2 separate regions of the Homo sapiens genome follow, and region 1 is linked to region 2. Evidence: fine-mapped QTL for protein levels in blood plasma. A gene starts in region 2. The other region holds a variant in brackets. All regions are shown on one strand. Distances are from middle to middle.

Region 1 (11,454 bases), 62 kb after region 2:
ATTATCCCCATTTTATCAATGAGTTAATTGCTATTTACCTGCGATTATATAGCTAATTAATGGAAGGCATTGGCTGTACAATGGGATTTGTGACTCCCACTTTACAGCTGAGCTCAATTCTTTCTACCATTGACCTGCAACGATGTTTTAAATAAAATGACTACTAAGGTTAGATGTTTTAAATAAAATGACTATTAAGGTTAGATGTTTTAAATAAAATGACTACTAAGGTTAGACTGCTAAGGTTAGAGGTTAGACTGCTAGTTTCTGCCAATGGATCATTTTTGCCAATAATAGGATAATTTTTTTTCACAATAAGAATCCTAAAAAAAAATTTCATCCTAGCCTCAGCACTTCTCTACATTAATTCTAGGAAACACTTGTACTTAGATGGAGCTTCCTAAGGACCAGCAATCTTTTTAACAAAAGATGAGCCCTTCAAAAGCTGCCTGATAAGTGAGTGCAAGAATTATAACCATTGATACACACTGTAGTCATCAAAAAGTCAGATCACACAGTCTATTCTGCATAGGACTCCATTCATTGCCTTTTAAATGCAATAAACTTCCCCTCCCTTTTTCACACCATATCCTGCCTTTTTCTAACCTATATTAATGATTCAATACATATGGTGAATAAATTAAGTGATAGAGTTTTTTTAATTAGCAAGATTTTTATATAGCAAGATATAACCTGAGTTATACCTGTATTTCACTTTGATCTAAGAGAAGCAAATCATACTAGCTCTTATATAAAAACTCTGTAATGGTAGCATAACTATTCAGTAATGTTACTAAATGAAAAAGAACTGCACAATGCATTTTGTTATGCATATTTTCTTTAGGAATTCCTTCACTCTTGGAATAAACTTAACTCTTTTCCATAAATGAGACCCCCACCCCCCGCAGTCCAAAATTTGTCAAGCTGAATGATCACTAAAATCACCTAAAGAACATTTTTAATGTTATTTTTCTCAAGCTTTTTATAACTAAAATTTTCTTCCCATATACAAAAAGCTGAAAGACTAGTACAATGAACATTCATACAAGTACCTCCTAAATTCAATAGCTGTTAATATTTTAACAAATTTGGTTTCTCTCTCTGCCTTTCTCTCCCTCTGTGTGTATATACATAGACCTATCTGTATAAGTCTTGGCTTGATTTGAGTTTAGGTAAAACATTATTGATAAAAATACTTCTTCATTGATGTGTGTACTTCATATTGCATTACATCAGGTGGCAAATGACGTCAGGTTGTTTCATCGCTGGTAATTGTATTTAATCATTTGTTCATGGTGGTAAGTAGCAGATCTCTTTTTTTTTGTAAATAACAAACGTGTCTGGATGGTAGTTTGGTACTATGTGAATATCCTGTTGCTAACATTTCACCTAAAGGAAACCATCCTTTTGTCCCTACCAGAATCTATTGTTCCATCAGACTCTGTTGTTACATCTACATTGATTAGCTGGCCTTCTTCTGTAAAGGTGAGCATTTCTTTATCAACTGTGGGTCGACTACAGTTTCTTCTAAAAAGTTAGGGTAATTTGTAATCCTTCCCCTTTACCACGTTTCGAGTAGATCTCACCATATCGAATTTTTCCCATTATTTTTTCAGGGCTACTTTTCTTTCTGACACAACTAAATTTGCTCACCTTCCAATTTCCTGCCTCAGACCCCAAATCAACCATTTCTTCAAGGAACCTCAGTTCTTTTTAGTGAAGGATGGTATGTATAAATCAAGCTCTAAGTGTTAGGCATACCTATTGTACTTGTATCTTTGCTTCTTGACCTTTTCAGTGGACAGTGCAAGGAAATATGTGTATTTCTCTTAATCATGAGTTCATGTTAGTATTTGTAATTTAAATTTAACATTAATTTTAAAAATTATATTTGTATATCACACTTAAAACTTGCAATATATTTATTTGATTCATATATACATATATAGTTTTGAATTACAATAAAATTCTGAACGAAGTTTAAGATTTCTTTGCAATTCTTTCTGTCCCTGGGGAGTTTTTAAAAATGCAAATATTGGCCGGGCGCGGTGGCTCACGCCTGTAATCCCAGCACTTTGGGAGGCCGAGGCGGGCGGATCACGAGGTCAGGAGATCCAGACCATCCTGGCTAACACGGTGAAACCCCGTCTCTACTAAAAATTAAAAAAAAAATTAGCCAGGCGTGGTGGCGCGCGCCTGTAGTCCCAGCTACTCGGGAGGCTGAGGCAGGAGAATGGTGTGAACCCGGGAGGCGGAGCTTGCAGTGAGCCGAAATTGTGCCACTGCACTCTAGCCTGGACGACAGAGCGAGACTCTGTCTCAAAAAATAATAATAATAATAATAATAATAATAATAATTATAATTATATCTGTGCCCACTTCCCCAAGATCTTCTGAATTAGAATCCTGGAGATAGAATTTTGTCAGATTGTAGGTTTGTATTTTTAAAATAACCAATCCATGATCTCCTGCCCTAGTCAGCCTCAGGACTGCTGGAATATGTGAAATCTGTTTTACTTTGGGTCATATCTCTCAATCCTCCCTCCCCTCTTTTTTCCTTCTTAGACATTTTTATAATTTTGTTATAATGTAATTACAGAATTACTGGGCACAGGGAGAAATGTTTAAGGAAATGGGAAAAGGGTTGACTGGGAAGTAAAAAGAAAAATCAAGAATTTGCAGGAAGATGGTATAGGGAGCTTAGAAGCTACTGGCATGAACAGTAACTTTTCATAGGCTATCATTATCCTCAATATCTTCCTTACAGTTCTTCAGAAGATTTTAAACAGTAATCCTGTTTTTTAAAACAGGATTTAAAACATTATTTAATAATGGCCTAGCATTTATTGCATATTTAGCATTGCCAGGCACTCAAAGTATTTTATGTAGTGCCTCATTTAATCCTTGCAGGAACCTTATTGTGCTCATATATTAATATTCCAATTTTGTAAATGAGGAAACTGACTTAAATATATGTACTCTGCTTAATGAGCTACTTTCTAAGGAAAACACAAGTTTTATCTTTGCCACAGGTTGGGTTACCCAGGAAGCGCACTCTGAGATTGAGATTTGGATGCCTTATGTTGTTAGAGATACCTGACAGATCTAACAGAATTGATCTCTGGGGATCAATACCTTTGGAAGGGAGGAGATGCAACCACAACCACTCAGTGAAGCTGAGCTATGAAGTGGTTCTCTACCAAGTCCTGAACCAACCCCACAGAGAGCTCTGGAGCTAGGGTAGTTGTTCAAAGTCCTTCCAATTTGGAGCAAGAGGACTGGCCTTTTTACCTCTGCATTGACCCATCGCTGTGTGCAGACTGCCCCTGGAAGGAGGCTTGATCTTGGATGGGGACCCTCTTCTGCTGGCACTCTCTGCAGCCAGGGGAATAAGTTTTTTAATCCTGAAAGGGCTTCTGGGGTAGAACTGATCGCTGATCACAGTGTCCACCACATCTCCAGTAAATTTGCTATAATTTCTTCAAAACAAATTTTCTTGATAAAGACTTTTTCCCTATTGGCTATTCTTTTCTTATTTTTCCCATTGAAGAATATATATATTTAGAGGCATTTGCTCTTATGTCATTCACCATAAACTCAAAGTCTTTTTTAACCCAGTTGTACCAGCTTTTAACTCCGTGCCTTATATTACATCGGATAAACCAAAATATTTTTATGCAGTAACTTGCTGTTTTTTTTAAACATCAGGCGTTTAGCATCTCCAGTCCTCAACATTTTACTCTGCTTGTCTTTACAGCCATTCTTGAGAAGGTTCTCAAAGAGGTCAATGCAAGAGAAAGTCTTCATATTAATCCATGCTTAGGATCTCCTCAATTTCAACCCCTTCTTTGTTAAAGCGTCCTCTTTGACACTCAGCATACATCCTTCATCCCGTGATTTTCTGGTGGAGAAAATTACTCACTCTCAGCTTGCTGGCTGACTGTCCCAACTGTCTGTCTTCTGTGTGAACTTGGAGGCAGAAGGGCTGTGTGTGCTATCACTCCCTGGTGTAGAGAAACACGTCCACCTCCTCCTGCCTCTGGTGTACCTGGTCCCTTGTATATGGGATTATGTGCTCTCAGCATAAGAAATGCCTGATTTTTCCATTTAAATGAGGTGAGGCTATGTTACAAATGCACTATTTGTTCTCTTCTTCCTTTGGGAGTATTTCTGGTCTTCATTTTTATTGGAAGACCTCGAAATACTTTAAATATGTTTGTTCTATAGTTTTTAAAAAATAAATCATTTCTGAGTATGTTGAAACTCAGTACCCAGCAACATAATTTTCTTTGGTTAATAATTTTTCTAAACTGGAAATGAAATGCCTTAAAATTATGCATTTGTCAAATATGCTTTAATATGTGGTTAAAAGCCAATCTAATAAGGAAAAATAACCTAAAAATTAGTCCAACCATTCCTTTTAATTCCTTGCTTCCAATTTACCATGTATATCTACCACTTTGGAGAGAAAAACTGTTAATTTAACCTTAATTTTTAATTTAATTTAAAAATTTTAAAATGTAACTCCATTTAAAGAAGTATCTTGAGGAAGATTGAACCTGGGAGCAGGTAAGTAGGAGAGATCACTAAAGAGCAAAGTGTAAGGTAGAGCATTTGTTTCCTTCTTTTTTGTTTGTTTGTTTTTGTTTTTGTTTTGAGACAGTGTCTCGCTCTGTCGCCCAGGCTGGAGTGCAGTGACTCGATCTTGGCTCACTGCAAGCTCCGCCTCCCAGGTTCACGCCATTCTCCTGCCTCAGCCTCCCCAGTAGCTGGGACTACAGGCACCCACGACCACACCTGGCTAATTTTTTTTATTTTTAGTAGAGACGGGGTTTCACCGTGTTAGCCAAGATGGTCTCGATCTCCTGACCTCATGATCCACCCACTTCGGCCTCCCAAAGTGTTGGGATTACAGGCCTGAGCCAACACTCCTGGCCTCCTTCTTTTTTATAAGGATGTGTGCCTCTTCACATAGAGTGCTGTGTAGGACTTGAACTTCTATCTCATGAATGTCTCATGTTGGCGGAGGTCATGCAGCATGATTCTCATTGCTTTTAAGTGATGGATAATTGAGTGATTAATAATTGATTTCACTGCATTCTGTGTTTTTTGCACCTTTTAAAAAAAATCGCTTAAGCTAGGGTTTTTGTTTCTGTTTTTTAAATGCTACCCCAAGTTTGGTTGTGTTCTCAAGTGAAAAACATTGCTAGCTATGCCGTGTGTGAACTTTCAGCCTAGTCATTTTGTGGCCATAAATATTGTTTCTATGAGCCTCTTTTCAGCTGTGCTAGTCATGTGTTTTCTGTTTGTTCCTTAAATTATGTAAAATGACCCCTTTGGCAGCCAACAAATTTTATAGCTTACTATGATAAAGAGCTTCCTTATGGAAAAAATATTCAAGTTATATAAAATGTTTTCTAGCAGGTCAATTTTTTTCTGAATAAATAGTTTTAAAAACAAATTTAACAGGAAGCTTAACAATTTTTTGAAAATTTGTACAAGCAGTGCTCAATGTAGG[G/T]AATAAGGAAAACCAAGAGATGAGAAAAATTAACACCCAAAAGCTCATCACCAGAGAAAACTGCTTTTACTCTCTCTTCTTCTAGTCATTTCTATGCCCCATTATTATTTTTGCATATTTGAGGTGATGTGGTGTAAACAGTATGTATATTCAATGTGTATATTCTACTTCTTCAAACTAATATTATATATAAAGATTTTCTACAAAAATTATTTTTTGAACGTTTTATAATTATATACTATTCAGTTGTGTTAAGTTCAGTTAGCATAATTTTTCTAACTGTTCTCATTAAGGGCATTTTGTTTGTTTCTAGTAGATTGGCTAGTATACAGGCTGCAGTGAGCATTTCTGCATAATGTCTCTTCTGTAATTAGAATTGTGTCCCTAGAATATATTCACAGGTCTGAAATTTTGCAGTCAGGAGGAATGAATGCTTTTAAAGATTTTGATACTCACAGCCAGATGGCTTTACAAAAAAAACTCTACCAACATTAAATTGTTTTTACTTTTTTTCCCCGCCTAGGAGGGTCTAAGATCTTTGTGACCCTAAAAAGGTTAAGAGCCACTGGTATGTTTATGAAAAACAGATTTTATGCTTCTTGAGGTCATCACTGCCTTTTAACTTCCAGGAACCCTACCAGTAAGCATACCCTGAAGTAGATGTGCAAGAAATTTGTTGAAAATAATGATCTTAGTGAGATCTGCATGTGACCAAAATTGAGGATGCCTTTCAGGAATACTAACATGCCTTAGGCAGTGGAAAGGGTGGCCAACTCCTCTTTGGTGTCAATTTGAAAACCTTATTTTATTTACTTCATATTGTCAGTGGCAGACAACAGATTTTTGAAGACCATTTTGTGTTTTTGCAAAATCACAATAGCAAGCACGGTAGCTCAGTTTAATGGTCCTATGTGCCAAAGTGACTAGCTGAAAATAAAGTATTTCATTTTTATCTGTAGCAGTCAAGTCACATGAGATGAGTATATCATTTCCTGCATATTACAATTTATTACATCTTAATATTCACCTACCCTAGTGGGCGTCATAGTAAGTTTTTACTTCTATTACAGTAGCCTTTCCTGAGCTGCTTTATTATGAATTCTAGTTAGTAGTATTTTATTGGTTTGAAAATAAAGGAAATTTTTATTGAAATAAATGTATTGAAATTAACAGTGATTCTAAGGAATATATTTGTTTTAGCATTTAAATAGTCTACAAAGATAACTATCAATTTATTTAGCTAGAAGTTCCCTAGAAATTCTAGTTAAGGATATGAAAAGCATGGATGCCTCCCTCGACCTAGAGAGAGTATAATAGTTAAGAACATGGAATCTGTAGCCAGAGACCTTGGATTTGAATCCTACCTTTACTGCCTCCTTGGAGCACGGCTTTTATCAAGTTACTTAAACTCTGTGCCTCTGATTTCTTAACTGTAAAATGGGGTAATAGTGGTATCTAGCTCAAAGAGTTGTTGCAGGAATTAAAAGAGATACGTATGATGCAGGCAGAATCATGCTTGTTTCATTGTATGGGTTCTTCTACCTTCTCCTCATCGTATTATCGTAGTCTTTGTAGTCGTCTTCATGATGGAAGTCAGTATTCAATGAAATACTTTCTCTGATAAATTGATTTACTACTTTTTTTTTCATTTTTATCTCCATTTTTCTTGGTAAGCCTTTGGAGGTTCTGTTCCAACTTTGACAATGCTTTGACTGACACATTGGCAGGCTGTCTTAAGTGTGTGCTATAGTAACAACATGCTTCCTTTTTCATTTATTTGTAGATACCAGGATAAATGTGCTGCTTACCTTCATTATACCAGGTAAAAGAAGGGAACCTTTTCAATAGAAAACAAAAAACCTGTATGACTTAGGGTCATCAGAAGAGTATGGCAAAATAAAACTGAGATATTCAGTGAGACTTGCCAGTGTAGTCTTCCAATAAATTATTGCATATTATTTGCCAGAGCTTCACCTTTTGTTGCAAACAGATAGCAAATTTCAGTTGCACCACTTCAGCAGCTTATGTTCATCAACTGAGGTTGGTTGGAATGTGTCAGACCAGCTAAATTTAAGCATATGTTATATATTCTTTCAGTTAATGGGTAGAGTTGCTTCCTGTTGCTTAACTACTGCTATGTTTCCTTCTCTCAAAGTGCCAAAAAGTTTTTGAAATAAAATGATTATTTTAATGGTTTGGTATTGTGAACATGGTTATGGTAAAATTAGAATATTGCTTCTTTCATCTAAAAGGTGGTAGGTAGCAAGATGAAGAAATGGAAATAGAAAGTAAGGGAAAGTTAAAGTTAACTATCATATTTTTAATGTTTTAATATGAGTATAATCTGTTTACTATATAAATCAGAAATTAAATTAGGAAAACATTCCATATTATTCTGTATGAAAGTAGTGTTTTGATATGTCACTCCTAATCCTCACTTGGGTTTCATAGTGAACATTTTCATGTGTCCTAGAAAACAGACTGTTGGTTGTATTTCTGGATAAGTACTCTGTGAGGGGTTTTCTCCCTTTCTCTCACTGATACCTCTTACATTATGGGAGGGGAGAAAAATGGAACTCTGGTCTTATATATAATATAGTTAGCATGTCCTGGGAAATATAGTAAATTATTCTGTGATAGTGTAATTATCTTCTGCTGTCTTTATGGAACCAGGCATTTGATAAATTTTTGGTTAGAGTAGAATATCAGCAAAGCTATAGGAATAGGCTCAATTGTGAATAATTTAGTTTTCCTCCATAGCCACAGCACTACTTTTGCTCACAAAAAGGCAAGAGTATTCATGAGCGATAGTTTGAACATCTAAAAATTCACAGTAGTACCTCAGTTGGAACAGTCTGCTTAACATAGGTTGAAAAGCACTTTAGTCCTTACTTATGGGACAGACTGATTTAATTCTTTGTATCAAATTTTTAAAAATGTTTTTCCCTTTATTTCACAAGCTGTCAGGGGAAATCATGACCTAACACATTGAAGGAACAAAACACCTTTGACAGGCAGATCTCATTGTGCAGTGTAAGAATTGGCTTCTTTGGTGTAACTGGTTGCCAAAGATAGCCTTATAACATGATTTTAAAAAGCAGAATAAAGAGACATTAAAGTATATATTAATCGCATGTTTTAAAGGCCCCTCGAGTTAATTGTTTTTGTAAATTTCTGGGTTTCTACAAAGTAGAAGTCATTATCAAGCAGTCTTCTTGAAGTTGTTTAGCATTGTGGCCACCAGCACAGGATCAGGAGTCACAGGCCAGGGTTCAAACCTACATCAGTGGCTTACTGATTGTGTGACTTAATGATGTATGATCTCCTCTCTAATCTTTGGCTTCCTGAACTATAAAATGTGAGAGTAAAATTACAGGTCCTGTCTCACTGGATAGTTGCGAGGATTGGAGTATGTAACATACTTAACGGTGTCTAGTAGTTTTATTTTTTAAAATCAAAAATTGCACTGCTGTTGCCCCAAAAATCCATCTAAAAAACATAAGGCAGGCCCTCCTTTAAATATATGGAGGCCAGGAAACATGTTTCCTGTTGAATAACTGTTATTATTTTTGTATATGGGAGTAGAAATAAGGAAACTAGAAATGGCACAGAATTTAGGAGAAAGGAAGACACATAACAGAAGCTCTTCCTGTGCAAAAGGAGCAAAATACTAAGACTCTCCTCAATTAGAGCTTTTTAGTCTGGTTGGGGAAGAAAAACTAACATATAGGACAGTTAGAGAATTATAAAAATATTGAGTAGAAATTCATAAGAGGAAAAATATCACTGGAACTAGAGCAGATGGTGGGGGCTGAGTCTTTATAAATGGAATTGGAACTGAACTTAGAAGGAAGAGAGGAGGAAAGCAGGGCAGTGCTGTAGGCTAAGGCTGGTAAGTGAGCAAACCCTAGAGGCAGGACTGAAAATAATTTTTTAAAATCATCTCCTGAAGGGACGTGACTGACTAATGAGTACAGGGACACCTTGAGTGAGTACATAGTGGGTAACACTGAAGCCAGGCAAAGAGTTTGAGCCTGGTTAGGGAGACTTTCAGTCTCTTAAAAAAAAAAAATCCCTGACATATACTAGAAAGCAGTGGTTTTTATAAATTTTTGATTGATACATATGAATTGTACATATTTATGGAGGGCATGGTATATTTTGATACATGCATACAGTGTGTAATGATCAAATCAGGGTAATTAGGATATCTGTTACCTTGAACTTTTTTTTTTTTTAGAGACAGCGTCTTGCTCTGTTGCCCGGGCTGGAGGGCAGTGGCACGACCATAGTTCACTGCAGCCTCGAACTCCTGGCCTCAAGCAATCCTCCCACCTCAGCCTTCCAAGTAACTGGGACTACAGACACACACCACCATGCCCTGCTGATTTAAAAAAAATTTTTGTAAAGATGGGGGTCTCTCTATGCTGCCGAGGCATGTCTCAAACTCCTACCCTCAAGAGATCCTCCTGCCTCAGCCTCCCAGAGTGCTGGGATTACAGGTGTGAGCTTGTAACATTCCTTTTCTTTGTGTCGGGAATGCCTCAGATCTTTTCTTCTAGCTATTTTGAAATGTACAATAAATTGTTGTTCCCTATGGTCACCCTACTGTGGTACTGAACACTAGAACTTATTCCTTCTATCTAAGTGTATGTTTGTACCCATTAACCAATCTCTCTTTACCCCTTTCCCCTTCCCAGCCACTGTTAGCCATCATTCTACTCTACCTCGGTGAGATCCACTTTTTTAGCTCTCGCGTATGAGTGAGAACACGTGGTATTTGTCTTTCCGTGCCTGGCTTATTTCACATAGCATGATGACCTTCACTTCCATCCATGTTGCTGCAAATGACAGGATTTCTTTCTGTGGCTGAATAGTACTCCATTGTGTGTATACATACCACATTTTCTTTATCCATTCATCCACTGATGGACACTTAGGTTGATTCTGTATCTTGGCTATTGTGAATAGTGCTTCAGTCAACATGACAGTGCAGGTATCCTTTGATATATTAATTTCCTTTCCTTTGGATAAATACCCAGTAGTGGGATGGGTGGGTTGTATGGTAGTTCTATTTTTAGGTTTCTGAGAAACCTCCATACTGTTTTCCATAATGGCTGTTGTAACTTACATTCTCACCAACAGTGTATAAGAGTTCCCTTACTCTGCATGTTTGCCAGCATTGTTATTTTTTGTCTTTTTGATAAGAACCTTTCTGACTCAGATGAGATGATACTTCATTGCGGTTTTGATTTGGATTTCCCTGATGATTAGTGATGTTGAGTATTTTTTCATATATCTGCAGTATTTAACAGAGCTAAGTCTAAATGCAATATATAGAATAGATTAAATGGGAGACACTGTTGGATTAATTCAGACTGCAGTGGTTGAGGATTTGGATCCCAAAGAAGAGAACAATGCCAGTATCTGCACCAATTCCATCTTTCCTATTACATCAGAGGGGTTGTCCGCCTCCCAGCCAGGCCAGTCCCCATGACTGCTTTGGCTCCCATCCCTTCTTCATTCTCAAGAACTTTGTGCACTTGATTACCCCTTCTCTCACATGCTTTTTAATGTCTCACCCTTGCCTTTGCTTTTAAAAATCTTCAAGCTTTTCCTATTAAAAACAAACTAAATTTTCTCATTCCACTTCATATTTCTTCCAGCTGCCTCTTCATCTCTATTCATCCCTTAACAGGCAAATCAAATTTTTCAAAAAATGTTGTCTATTCTTGTTTGTATCGTTTCCACATCTCCCAACTCCACACTTCCACTCACTCCAGTTGGGCTCTTGACACCATTACCCTGCCAAAACAGCTGTCACTGAAGTTATCAGTCAGCTTCAACTTCACGTTACCAAATGCAATCCTCATCTTGCTTGGCTTCTCGACATAGTTCACCGTGCCCTGTGTCTTGAACACACTGTTTTGGTTTTT
Region 2 (11,055 bases):
AGTATTTTGAGCTCCCCTGAAGATCAGCACTCTTAGCTCACAACTCTGTTGTGGCTCTCCAAATAGTCATTTAATACAGAGCCACATGTTCAAATAAAAGAGAAAATGTACTTGTCATTGTTCAGTTGTTACAAACTAAAGAAAGGATGAAATTTCTGGACATTAGCAAGATGGCATAGTTGGGAAGTAAAAGGTTTGGAATTAACAGATCTCTAGTCCCTGTCCAGCCTCTTAATTCCTGGATCATTTGGGAGAATCTCTCGCATCATCTCTCTGTAGTCTGAACCTCAGTTCCTTTATTTGTGTGTAACTGTTTATGTCTCAAATGCCTAAAAAGGCTTGAAGACATACTCCATTACTAAAATAACCCAATTTTATACAAATTAATCAAAAAACGTTCAGAAGATAGTCAAGCACAGGAATGTCCCCTCCTCTCCGACTTTTTTCTCCTGTCCACACATCTTCACACACCTCCAGGGATCCTGCTTATCCAGCTATGCCCAATGTGGTTTAGCCAAACCTCTCATTTTACATATGGCAGCATGGGTTATCTGGCCTTTTCACTGACATAGTTTCTTTCTATTCCACCCCTGTTGTGTCTAAGTTATGCTCTAAGAGATAATCAGTATTAACAAGAGAGAGGCTAGTTTGTCTTATAGGTTCCCACAATAAAGAATGTCAGGTTCTAGGCATAGCTAGATAATCAGGATCTCTGGAAGGATGTGATAACAGATTGATAACTGTCTGAAACTAGTCTGCTTGCTGGTGGAGAGGTTTATGTGCACAGACTGTAAGACGACTTACAGTAATACCTTGATAAATACCAGTTTTGAAGACTTTCAGGTCATTTAACTAACCACACTGCTGAGAACCTGAGTCTTTCTTCAGTGCATTTCATACCCTAGTTTTAAGAAATTTGAGCATTTTAAAGGAAATTAGAAATTTGAGTCTAGCCAAATCTCTTAATCTGCATATAGCAGGGCAGGTTCTCTAGCCCTTTCACTGACAGAGTTCCTTTCCATTCCACCCATTATTTAGAAGTTATGCTCTAAGAGATTATCAATAGTAACAGAGAGAGGCCAGTTTGTCTTATAGGTACTGGGTTCCCACATGAAAGATATGAGGTTGTGGGCAATGCATTTTCCCTTCAGTGAGCCAACAGGCAGTTTCAAATAGCTATCAGTTTATTATCTAGGAATTACAGTACTCTTTTTGGTCAGGTAAAATGTAGAATACTGTACCCTTCTTCCCCAACACCCAAATAAAGGCAAAACCATCTACCTATAAAATGCTTCTGCAAATCATTTAGATATTATCATATTTTAAGAGCTATTAAAGAATGCTTCTTAAATAAGAAGACTACCGAATTATAGAAGTCCAAAAACAGTACCAAATTATGAAGAGGTGGTGTTCCACACTGTGAAATCTGAGGGCTTTTAAATTAGTATTTTTACTTATGCAACTCCTTTTTCCCCACGCTTAACAGTGAACACAGGAAATATATTTTCACTTGTTCAGTCTCTTAATACTGAGCATCTCTTCTGTGCCAAGCATGGTCAACATCTAGAGACACAATGCCAAATTCGAACATGGTCCTTGCCCTTAAGGAACTTGGTCTAGGCCAGGCGCGGTGGCTCATGCCTGTAATCCCAGCACTTTGGGAGGCCAAGGCGGGCGGATCATGAGTTCAAGAGATTGAGACCATCCTGGCCAACACGGTGAAACACCATCTCCACTGAAAATACAAAAATTAGATGGGTGGTGGCGCATGCCTATAGTCCCAGCTACTCGGGAGGCTGAGGCAGGAGAATCGCTTGAACCCGGGAGGTAGAGGTTGCAGTGAGCTGAGATGGGGCCACTGCACTCCAGCCTGGCAACAGAGCAAGACTACGTCTAAAAAAAAAAAAGAAAAGAAAAGAAAAGAAAAGAAAAGAAAAGAAACTTGGTCTATATGCTCTGAGGGAGAACTTACAGGGTGCTTTGAGAGCATGAAGGAGGGTCTTCTAACCTAGCAGTGGGATCGGGGACTGAAGACAATTAGAGGTTTCTGAAAGAACTGATGTATAAATTGAAATCTGAAGGATTATCAGGGAGTTCATGGGAGAGGGGTTGGTGTAAGAACCACAGAGTGTTCTAAGCGAGAGAATAACACACACAAGGTCTAGAAGTGAGAGGGAAGTTAGCCTATTTCAGAAATGGAGAGAAAATCAACATGGCTATAGTTTAAGTTGCAAAAGAGGGGATAACTGACCAGCCATGGGGCTGCAGAGGTAAGCAGAGGCAAGCTCACAAAGGCTTTGTAATAAATGGAGGAATTTGGGCTTAAATATAAGAGCAATGGGAAGCTGTTGAAGAGGTTTTAAACAAGAGTGGTAAGAGACAAAATCCGTTTCAATCACCTCTTAAATAAATGGTTAGATCAGAAGAGCACTTCTGAATTATGGGAGTCCAAAAACAGTACCAAATTATGAAGAGGTAGTGTTCTACGATGTGAAATCTGAGGGCTTTTACATAAATATTTTTGCTTTCCAAACACTGTAGGAGACCCTTAACCTCATTAAATGGAAGCCCTTGACAACAGTCCTTTATTCCAGATGAGCACAACTCAGGAATTATCCATCTCAAGCTTATGATAGAAATAGTACCCCATGTCAGAAAAAAAGTACAAAGGCAGGATTTTACCTCATAGTATTCCACATGAAAGCACAAATTAGTCTCAATCACACATCGGCATCATAGGAAAATCTCAGAATTTCAGTATTGGAAAGAATGTTAAAGATCATTTGGTCCAACACCTTCATTTTACAGATGAAGGCAGTATACAGATTATTTCTTATACAAGACTGTGGATTCTGCCTTGGGCTCTCTCTCCCTCAGATCTTTCATGAAGGGGGGAAGTCAGCTTGGCATGTCATGAGTAGCCCTGTGGAGAAGCCCAGGTGACAAGGAACTGAAGCCTCCCACCGCCTGCCAGTGAGGAACTGAGGCCTGCCTGCTGGCCATGTGGGTGAACTTGACAGCAAATTCTCCAGGCCCAGTTGGTTATGATAGTGGTCCCAGCTGATAGTTTGGTAAGAACCTCATGAGAGACCCTGAGCCAGACCACCTTGTTAAGCCACTCTTAGATTCCTGACTTCAGGAACTGTGTGAAGTAAATGTTTGTTGTTTGAAAGTGCTAAACTTTGGAGTCATTTGTTAAGCAGTAAGAGGTAACTAATGAACAGTACACAAAATTAATAAATTCTTAACAAACTTACACTATGCTTCCCTTGATATCTAAATAGTAGTTATTTTCTAAACAATAAAATGTATCTTCCTTTAAAGATACTACCAATTGTGCTCTTCTTCTTTGAAAAGAGGTGATTAAATGGCTTATAGAATAGGTGATAGGATATTTAGTCATTTAGAGGTCACTGACTCTAATTTAACCTGAGTTCTTGGCAACCACACATAGATAATACTGAAATTTGTTTGCAAATAATTCCCTATGGCTACATATTCCCATTTTAATGTAGCTGTTTTTTTTAAATCTCCGTACATACAAAAATATGAACTTAAATTAAAATTACCCTTTCTTCTTAGTTCTAAGCAGCCTTAGTAGGATGCTGAGTAAGGGGGAAACAACAGCCTATCAATTGATGATGATGACCATATGTAAAATAATCACTTTTCTAATTTAATAAAACCTCCAAAGTTTTGTCCTTGGAAGAAAAACCTCCCAGTGAGGAGGAATAGCAATTGAAGTAAACCTGGCCCCTCTTCTAAGTTTTGTCTGCCTTTTATATTTTCAATCCCATTATTCATTCAGCATTCCATCAAGAAATACTCACTGAGCCCTTTCCACATACCAGACACGGATAACAATAACGAACTAGATAGACAAGGCTCCACCTTCATACACATTTTTATCTGGGTATAGGAAAAAGAAATTAAGCAATTACAATATAGTGGTAATCATTAGGGAAGAAAAGTAGAGGGTGCAGTGGAAGTACCTAGCAGGATACCTACCCTAGTACATTGGTGGGAAGAGATATAGGGGTGTGGAGTGGGACATGTGAGAGAGTCTAGAAAAAGCTTTTTTGTAACTGACATCTAAGCGTAATGTTAAGATGTCAGAAGGTATTTCAGGCAAAAAGAACTCCCCGTACAAAGGCCTGAAGGTAAGTGAGTTACATTTAGAAACTTAGAAGTTCAGCTTGGCTGCAGCATAGCATTGGGGTAGTGTAGCCCCAAAATGGATACAATTCCCTCTGCTGGGCTTCCCTGTAACAGAGTTGACATGGTGGAGAAATTAAAAAATAACAAAGCTTTAGGCTCTGACCTCTTGCACATTATGCTGCCTGAAAACATTTATGTTCCAGATGCAGAAGGCTAATCAGTCTGGCAAGAATTCTGAGGTTGGAAAAACCTGCTTTGAATCCCAGCTTGAGACCAGTAATACCCACAACAGGTTGTGTAGAGGTTAGGTGAAATAATAAATGTGAAGCATCTTACACACACTAGGTGCTCAAATAATTCTCTCCCTTCAGTTACCTTGCTTCTGAGCCCCCAGCTGGACTCTGAGCTGAGGACACCATGTCACCATCCACCACACATGACCCCATGACTTGGCAGAGGACGATGCTTTTCTTGGCCATCTCTATGTCCATCTCATTCAGTTCTAGTCTCTACCCTCTTCTTTAGAGGAACTGCAGCATTCATAAAACAAGAATTATAGCCACACGCACCTGAGACTTGTTCCATTACACTAATTGTACTTTATATTTGTATATGTACTTGATCTCAATTATTCCTTTTGAGAACATCATAAGGTTGAGTATTGTAATCACTATTTGGCAGATAAAAGCCCTAGGTTCAGAGAGGTACGTGATTTATCTTGACTGAAGCTTTGAATGTAGCTCCTCATTTTCTAAACGAGTTCTGTCAACCCTACAAAGGCTGCCTCCCAGCAAATACTGCAATGGGCATATGTTTTAAGGTATATTTGCACTTTTTTTAAACTTTTAAGTTCAGGGGTACATGTGCAGGTTTGGTACATAGGTAAACTTGTGTTATGGGGGTTTGTACAGATTATTTCATCACCCAGGTATTAAGCCTAGTACCCACATTAGTTATTTTTCCTGATCCTCTCCCTCCTCCCACCCTCCACCCTCCAATAGGCCCCAGTGTGTGTTGTTCCCCTCTATGTGTCCATGTGTTCTCATCATTTAGCTCCCACTTATAAGTGAGAACATGCAATATTTCGTTTTCTGTTCCTGTGTTAGTTTACTTGCAGTTTCTTTTAAAAGTTATTAAGACTCAGAGAAACATAAACTTTTACAACTATATACCTATTCATCAATATACAACTGTATAACTATATACTCTTTCACACATATTTTAAGTTCTCTGTGTAAAACTAAAGTTGGGGGGTGGTAGTGGTGGCAGGATGTTCTCAGAATACTAGGGCCTTCAAAGGACCATCCTCAATACTTTGATGATAGGTATCACTTTCCATTTGCATACTTGCCCAGCTATGCTCATAACAGTAAAAATAAAGCTTCCTACCTTCTTAAGAATAAAAAACTGTCTCCCCTGTGAAAATAACACAAGTGAAAGACTTAATTATTCAGGTGGACTTCAGCTGCTGATTTCAAATGGAATTATTCTCTTATGATCACAGGATGCCTTGTAAGTTACCTGTTTCAAGCCCAGTCTCTGCCTAGGGAACTGTCTCCTATGAAAAGGAGTCCGGGTGGACCATGGTGGCTCATGCCTGTAATACCAGCATCTTGGGAGGCCAAAAAGGGAGGATCGCTGGAGGCCAGGAGTTTGAGACCAGCCTTGACAACAGGACCAGATAATAGACCCCGTCTCTACAAAAAATAAAAAAAAAATTAGCTGGGCATGATGACTCACACATGTGGTCCTAGCTACTCGGGAGGTTGAGGTGGGAAGATCACTTGAGCCCAGGAGTTCCAGGCTGCAGTGAGCTATGGATGTGCCACTGCACTCCAGCCTGGGTGACAGAGCAAGACCTCAACTCAAAAAAAAAATAAATAAAAAAGAAAAGGAGTCCACCTCACTTCTGAACAGTTCAAGTTGAGTCCATAAATGAGCCTATTTCTGTCTTCCAAAGATATCCATATAAGACTTTTCCCAACCACCCCCCGCAACCTTGCTTCCTTTCAGTGTTTCTCCAAAGGTGGTGCCCAGATTACCTGGATCAAAATCACCAGGGTACTGATTAACAGGAGATTCCTGGGTCCCAACGCTGACCTGAATCATCACCAAGAAATGGTGCATTCGCTTTTCATATCACATTACCCAGCAGATTCATACTTCGTGAATTACACACTCTAGATCTCTGTCACACAAAAAAAATGGTCTTAGGCAAAATCTCTCATCTTCTACTTAAAACAACTGGTTTTAACCTAAGGGGCTGATATAAATGCTAAGTCAAGCAGTGATTTGTGTTTAACACTTGACAGTCCCTCTTCCAGGTACTCTATATAGTGGACTTTTATACAATATGATGTACAGTCCTTCAGCCAACCAATAATACACCTAACTACAATCCATTCTACATTTCCGGAACCATGCTGTTCATGAGGATATCACTTCAGATATTTTGTGGAAATTTTGAAATTATGGCATCTACAGAACTCCCTGATATACTAGCTATTGTAAGCCAAGCCAAAAAGCACATGAAGGTAGTTTGGTATAATTCTTTATCTATCTTGATAATTGAAATTGTTTCACTGTAAAACTTTACATAACTGAGCTTTGTTTTAAAGCAAAAAACTTGCAGATGTGAGACAGTACGAGAAAAAAGAATCAGCTGTTACCATCTTAAAACTTAGGATAGCCTAGGTGTGGTGGCTCACAGCTGTAATCCTAGCACTTTGGGAGTACGAGGCAGATTGCCTGAGCTCAGGAGTTCGAGACCAGCCTGGGCAACACCGTGAAACCTCGTCTCTACTAAAATACAAAAAAAAAAAAAATTAGCTGGGCGTGGCGGTGTGCACTTGTAGTCCCAGCTACGGGGGAGGCTGAGGCAGGAGAATTGCTTGAACCCGAGAGGTGGAGGTTGAGGTGAGCCAAGATCGCACCACTGCACTCTACTCCAGCCTGGGTGACAGAGTGAGAGACTCCGTCTCAAAAAAAAAAAAAAAAAAAAAAAAAAAAAAAAAAAAAAAAGAAAAGAAAAAAAACCCCAAAAAACTTAGGATAAAATCTTAAAACGTTTTGTTCGACTTAAATTTAAATTAGCAGTTTAGGATATAGTACACTGATAATGTAATTACATACATTCTGCTATAAAGGCATAGACATCTTTATTGGGAGATATGGGCAGAAAAATTATTTCCTCAGGGTGGGGCATTTGGCTAAACACTTGCCAATATCCTTTACTGTGTAATTTAGGTAACACAGGCAGAAAAGGCGTTTGAAAAGCAGAAATCAAGTGGCAAATATCAGATCTGAGGGACGCAATGAGGGTGGAGTTGAAATCCGTGGTCCTTGGATTTGAAACTTACCAGCCCGTGAACAAGGTTGGTATTGCTTTTGGCATAAGACGACAGCCTTTCTTTTCATTAGCTCAGGAGGAATACTGGCTTTCCAAGTGAGCTCCTCCAATCCAGTGATATTTGCACATCTCACCTGGGCCTTTCGGTTACAAATTCACCACCTTAAGGAGCCGTGTGAAAAAGCAAGAACAATCAATAAGAAGGAAAAAAAAAAACCCTTCAGCTATAAATCAGCCACGTGGAGCTGCTGCAGCAGCAGCGGTAGTCCCACTTCCTGGTTGGCTTCCTGAAAGCCTCTCGACAAGGGGCTCAGGGAAGTGGGTCTAAGGGAGAGGTGCAGACGAGAGCGACTCCAGGTCCAACGGAGGGGGCGGCGGGCCACGGGATCCCGGAGGGCACAGGCGTTAAGGACGGAGTTATTGTCCATAATTACAATAAAAGTTTGGGGATCTGAAAGCTTTAAGGAGCTGAGCTGCAGGGCAAAGGCTAAGAACCGGACTCGGGAAAAGTGCAAGTTAGTTACAAGGTAGCAGGGACTGTGAAGGGGGCTCGCGTGGAGAGCAGGGGACTGCGGATCTGGAAGGGGGCAGGTAGAGAGGAAGGCAGCCTGGCAGAGCGAGGCACACGGGTCAGTCGGAGCTCTGCGGTGGCCGCCAGAGGGGAGGGGGCCACGGGGAGGAGCGGAGGGAAGAGCCCGGGGAAAGGTGTAGCCGAGGGGAGTTCCGGATCTGGAGCTGGAAAGGGCAGGCAGCGGAGAGGGCGGCAGCCGTAGCGGTAGGGGTGGGGGAAAGAGGGGGAGGAGAGCCGGAGGAGGGGGAAGGAGGGAGGGGAGAGCGGTGGCGGCGGCTGCGCCGGGCTGTGAGTCTCTCGCCGCCGGAGGAAGATGAGGCTGAAGATTGGGTTCATCTTACGCAGTTTGCTGGTGGTGGGAAGCTTCCTGGGGCTAGTGGTCCTCTGGTCTTCCCTGACCCCGCGGCCGGACGACCCAAGCCCGCTGAGCAGGATGAGGGTGAGTGACCCGCCCGGCCCCCTCCGGCGGCAGCGACCGGCAACTTGTTTTGTTTGCCCGCGTGTGGAGGGAGCAGGGGCGGCGGGGTCGCGGCACGGCGTGGGCACCGCAGCTCCGCAGGTGGTGCTGGCGCAGCGCGGGCCGAGGGGGTGCCGAGCCCCGCGCACTCCGACCTCCCTGGCCGCCGCCGGCCCGCCCCCTCGCCGCCCCTTCCTCCGCTCTTCCCCGCCCCGGGCTCCGTCGCCGACACCCGCGCTGCCGCGGCAGCGGCTCGGGCGGCCGCTCTCCGCGCCGGGACTGCGGGCGGAGCGGGCGGAGAGCCGGGTCCGGGGGGCTGCGGCCGCCCGGCGTCCCGCTCTGGGGGGCCGGGACCGCAGCGCTCACGGCCCGGGGACGCGGGGTTGGTCCAGGCTGCGGCCTGTGGCGCGTGCAGGCCTGAAGGAGGCGAGATGCCGATGCCGCCACCGCTGGTCCGGTGGACCAGGCCCCTTGGTCCAGCCTCCCCTCCCGCAGCCGCCCGTCTGGGGGTGTTCGCAGCCCCGGGCTCCCCCGGCCCGCCCGCCGGGGAGTGGGAGGGCGATGGCGCCCCGCCTCCGGCTCTTACGGAGAGCGCGCCTCCCCCTCAACTCCGGCGGCGGGGAGCCGGGGTGCGATGCGCGGCCGAGGCCTCGCCCGGACCGCCGGTCCCCCTCGCGTCCCTGGGCGAGGGAGGGGCGGTTGGCCGGAGATGGCGGAGGGGCGTCCCCGCCCCGCCTGCCCGCCGCCCCCAGCCCTCAGCGCCTGGGGAAGCCCCTGCTGTGGCAGTGCTCGGGCGCTATCCGGGGGAAGAGGAGCAGTTCCTCTTCCTTGGCTGCGGCAGGGCTGCTTGGGCCGGAAAACTAACTTGTGTCGGCGCCCGGCCGCCCCGCGCCGGCTGCCGGCTAGCTCAGGCCGACGCCGAGGGGAGCGGCGGCGCGGAGCTCGCGGCGGCTCCGCTGGGACGCATTTGTCTGCCGCCCAGGGCGCGAGTGTTAGCGCTGACATTCCTTGGATTTGGAGGGTTTAGTCAGGCGCCTCGGAACATTAGTTACCCGGAGCCGCGCCGCGCGGGGAAGGGACCGCGGGCACTGCGGCTTCCCTGACCCGGCAGCGGGCGGCGCGCACCGGCCTCGCCCCCGACCCTGACCTGCTTCCCCCCGGATGAACCGTTGCACCACCTGCTTCCTCCTCCCCGCTGGGACAGCCAACTGGGCCGGCTGCCAGTGGGGGTAGGAGAGGGTATGAGGGGCTCACGACCGCCGAGGCGGCGGGGCTGCAGGAGGAGTCGAGTCGCTCTCTCTGTTGTAAAGTGCTTTTTGCAAGTGTGATGAGCATCGCTTCTATGTCATGTTTATTTAACTTTCCTTCTGGAAAGTTAGCATCAAGAAGTTGGGCAAAAAGGCTTGTGGCGTCCTTTCAAGAGTAAGAATCCTAGGAGGAGATCCCATTATCAGCTCTTCGCCTATATCATGAGATTAGATGTAATCTGGAAGTTTTAGTATTTGAAGTCTCTACAGCAGTGGAATCCCTTTGTAATATCTGGGATAGATTCCCATCTAAGTCATCTAAATTGATGGTAATAAAAAGTATCAGTTTTCCTTTTCAGTACATTTGCGGTTTTAAGCTTCTCAGCTCATGGAGTGATGGTGATCTTTTTATAATTTTGCTCTCAATATGACTTATTGACAAAGGATAACTGAATATTGCAATTGAGGATATTTGTTTTAAGTCATCAAATGGCTTTTTACATGTAGCTAGAAATGTTTAACCCCCTATTTTCTGGTAGAGAAACTGACGAAAAACTGACAAAACTAGCTAGGTTCAGAATGTCCCGCCCTTCTGATGATCTTTTAAAGAGGTGGCGGAACATCAGCATCACTTGCCAACTCGTGGAATATTTTATTAGTGCAAACAAAGGATGGGCCATAATGCCCATTTCAGTACTATATGGTGATGATAAAGAAGGTGATGATATCTTGATTTTTTGTTTGTTTCAGTGTACTTGATAAAGTTTCTCAGTGGATCCAGTGTAATTTCTGTCATTTGTCAAAAACAAAAGGTAGATTTTAAAGACTTAACATAATTAACATTAAGAGGAATGCTTAGGTATCAGAAGAGCAAGAAAGACCCTTTTATTGGCTTCCCAGGTAAATAGTAATACAAGCAATTTAAAGTGTAGCTTATAAATAATAAGAGCATAAATAAGGGATTATTGCCTTCCTTTAATAAAGACTAACCTAGGAGCTTTTAAGGTACAGTGCTAGAAGGACAAATCCTGTAGGGAGGATTCTGACTCCTGAGTTTCTCCTCCCCCTTGTGGTTCTTTTACTTCGATGACTATTGCATATATTCCACCCATGGTGAGATCTCTGCTTCTCTTTAATGCTGATCTACACATGGACTTTTTTGGATCCCTTTAAATAGCCTGAACGATCCAGTTTACCAGGTATGGGTTCTGCCTCTACTCCAGCAAGCTTGTACCTGTGGCTCCATTCACCCTGTGCCACTTTTTGTCTTGAA

Direction of the effects. Positions count from the first base shown, and alleles are read on the strand shown. Strength reflects both the effect of a copy and how common the allele is.
In carriers of allele T in region 1, the plasma level of the protein whose gene starts at base 8,367 in region 2 tends to be higher than with G alone (weak association).

What was found. PIP is the chance, under the fine-mapping model, that this variant and not a neighbour inherited with it causes the effect. The UK Biobank Pharma Proteomics Project read protein levels with antibody pairs (Olink). The fine-mapping took linkage between variants from a reference panel, not from the people measured, so its PIPs are less certain.
Region 1: its variant is fine-mapped to the plasma level of the GALNT7 protein (UK Biobank, PIP above 0.99).

The regions. Positions count from the first base shown.
Region 1 is chr4:173,222,694-173,234,147 of GRCh38, forward strand. The region is part of intron 1 of GALNT7 (polypeptide N-acetylgalactosaminyltransferase 7); the gene reads left to right. Among named protein-coding and RNA genes, the nearest start is that of MIR548T, 40 kb to the right of the region's middle. RefSeq lists enhancers at 3,461-3,977, 3,978-4,493. The variant G/T (reference allele first, on the strand shown) is at 5,519.
Region 2 is chr4:173,160,445-173,171,499 of GRCh38, forward strand. It overlaps GALNT7 (polypeptide N-acetylgalactosaminyltransferase 7), which reads left to right and starts at 8,367. Exons shown (of 12, transcript NM_017423.3): 1 at 8,367-8,517. The coding sequence starts at 8,392. It overlaps GALNT7-DT (GALNT7 divergent transcript), which reads right to left and starts at 9,208. Exons shown (of 7, transcript NR_134242.1): 1 at 8,420-9,208; 2 at 7,518-7,669; 3 at 6,201-6,346; 4 at 5,680-5,855; 5 at 4,534-4,688; 6 at 3,849-3,909. RefSeq lists enhancers at 5,478-5,557, 7,636-7,735 and silencers at 8,046-8,095, 8,166-8,285, 8,516-9,745.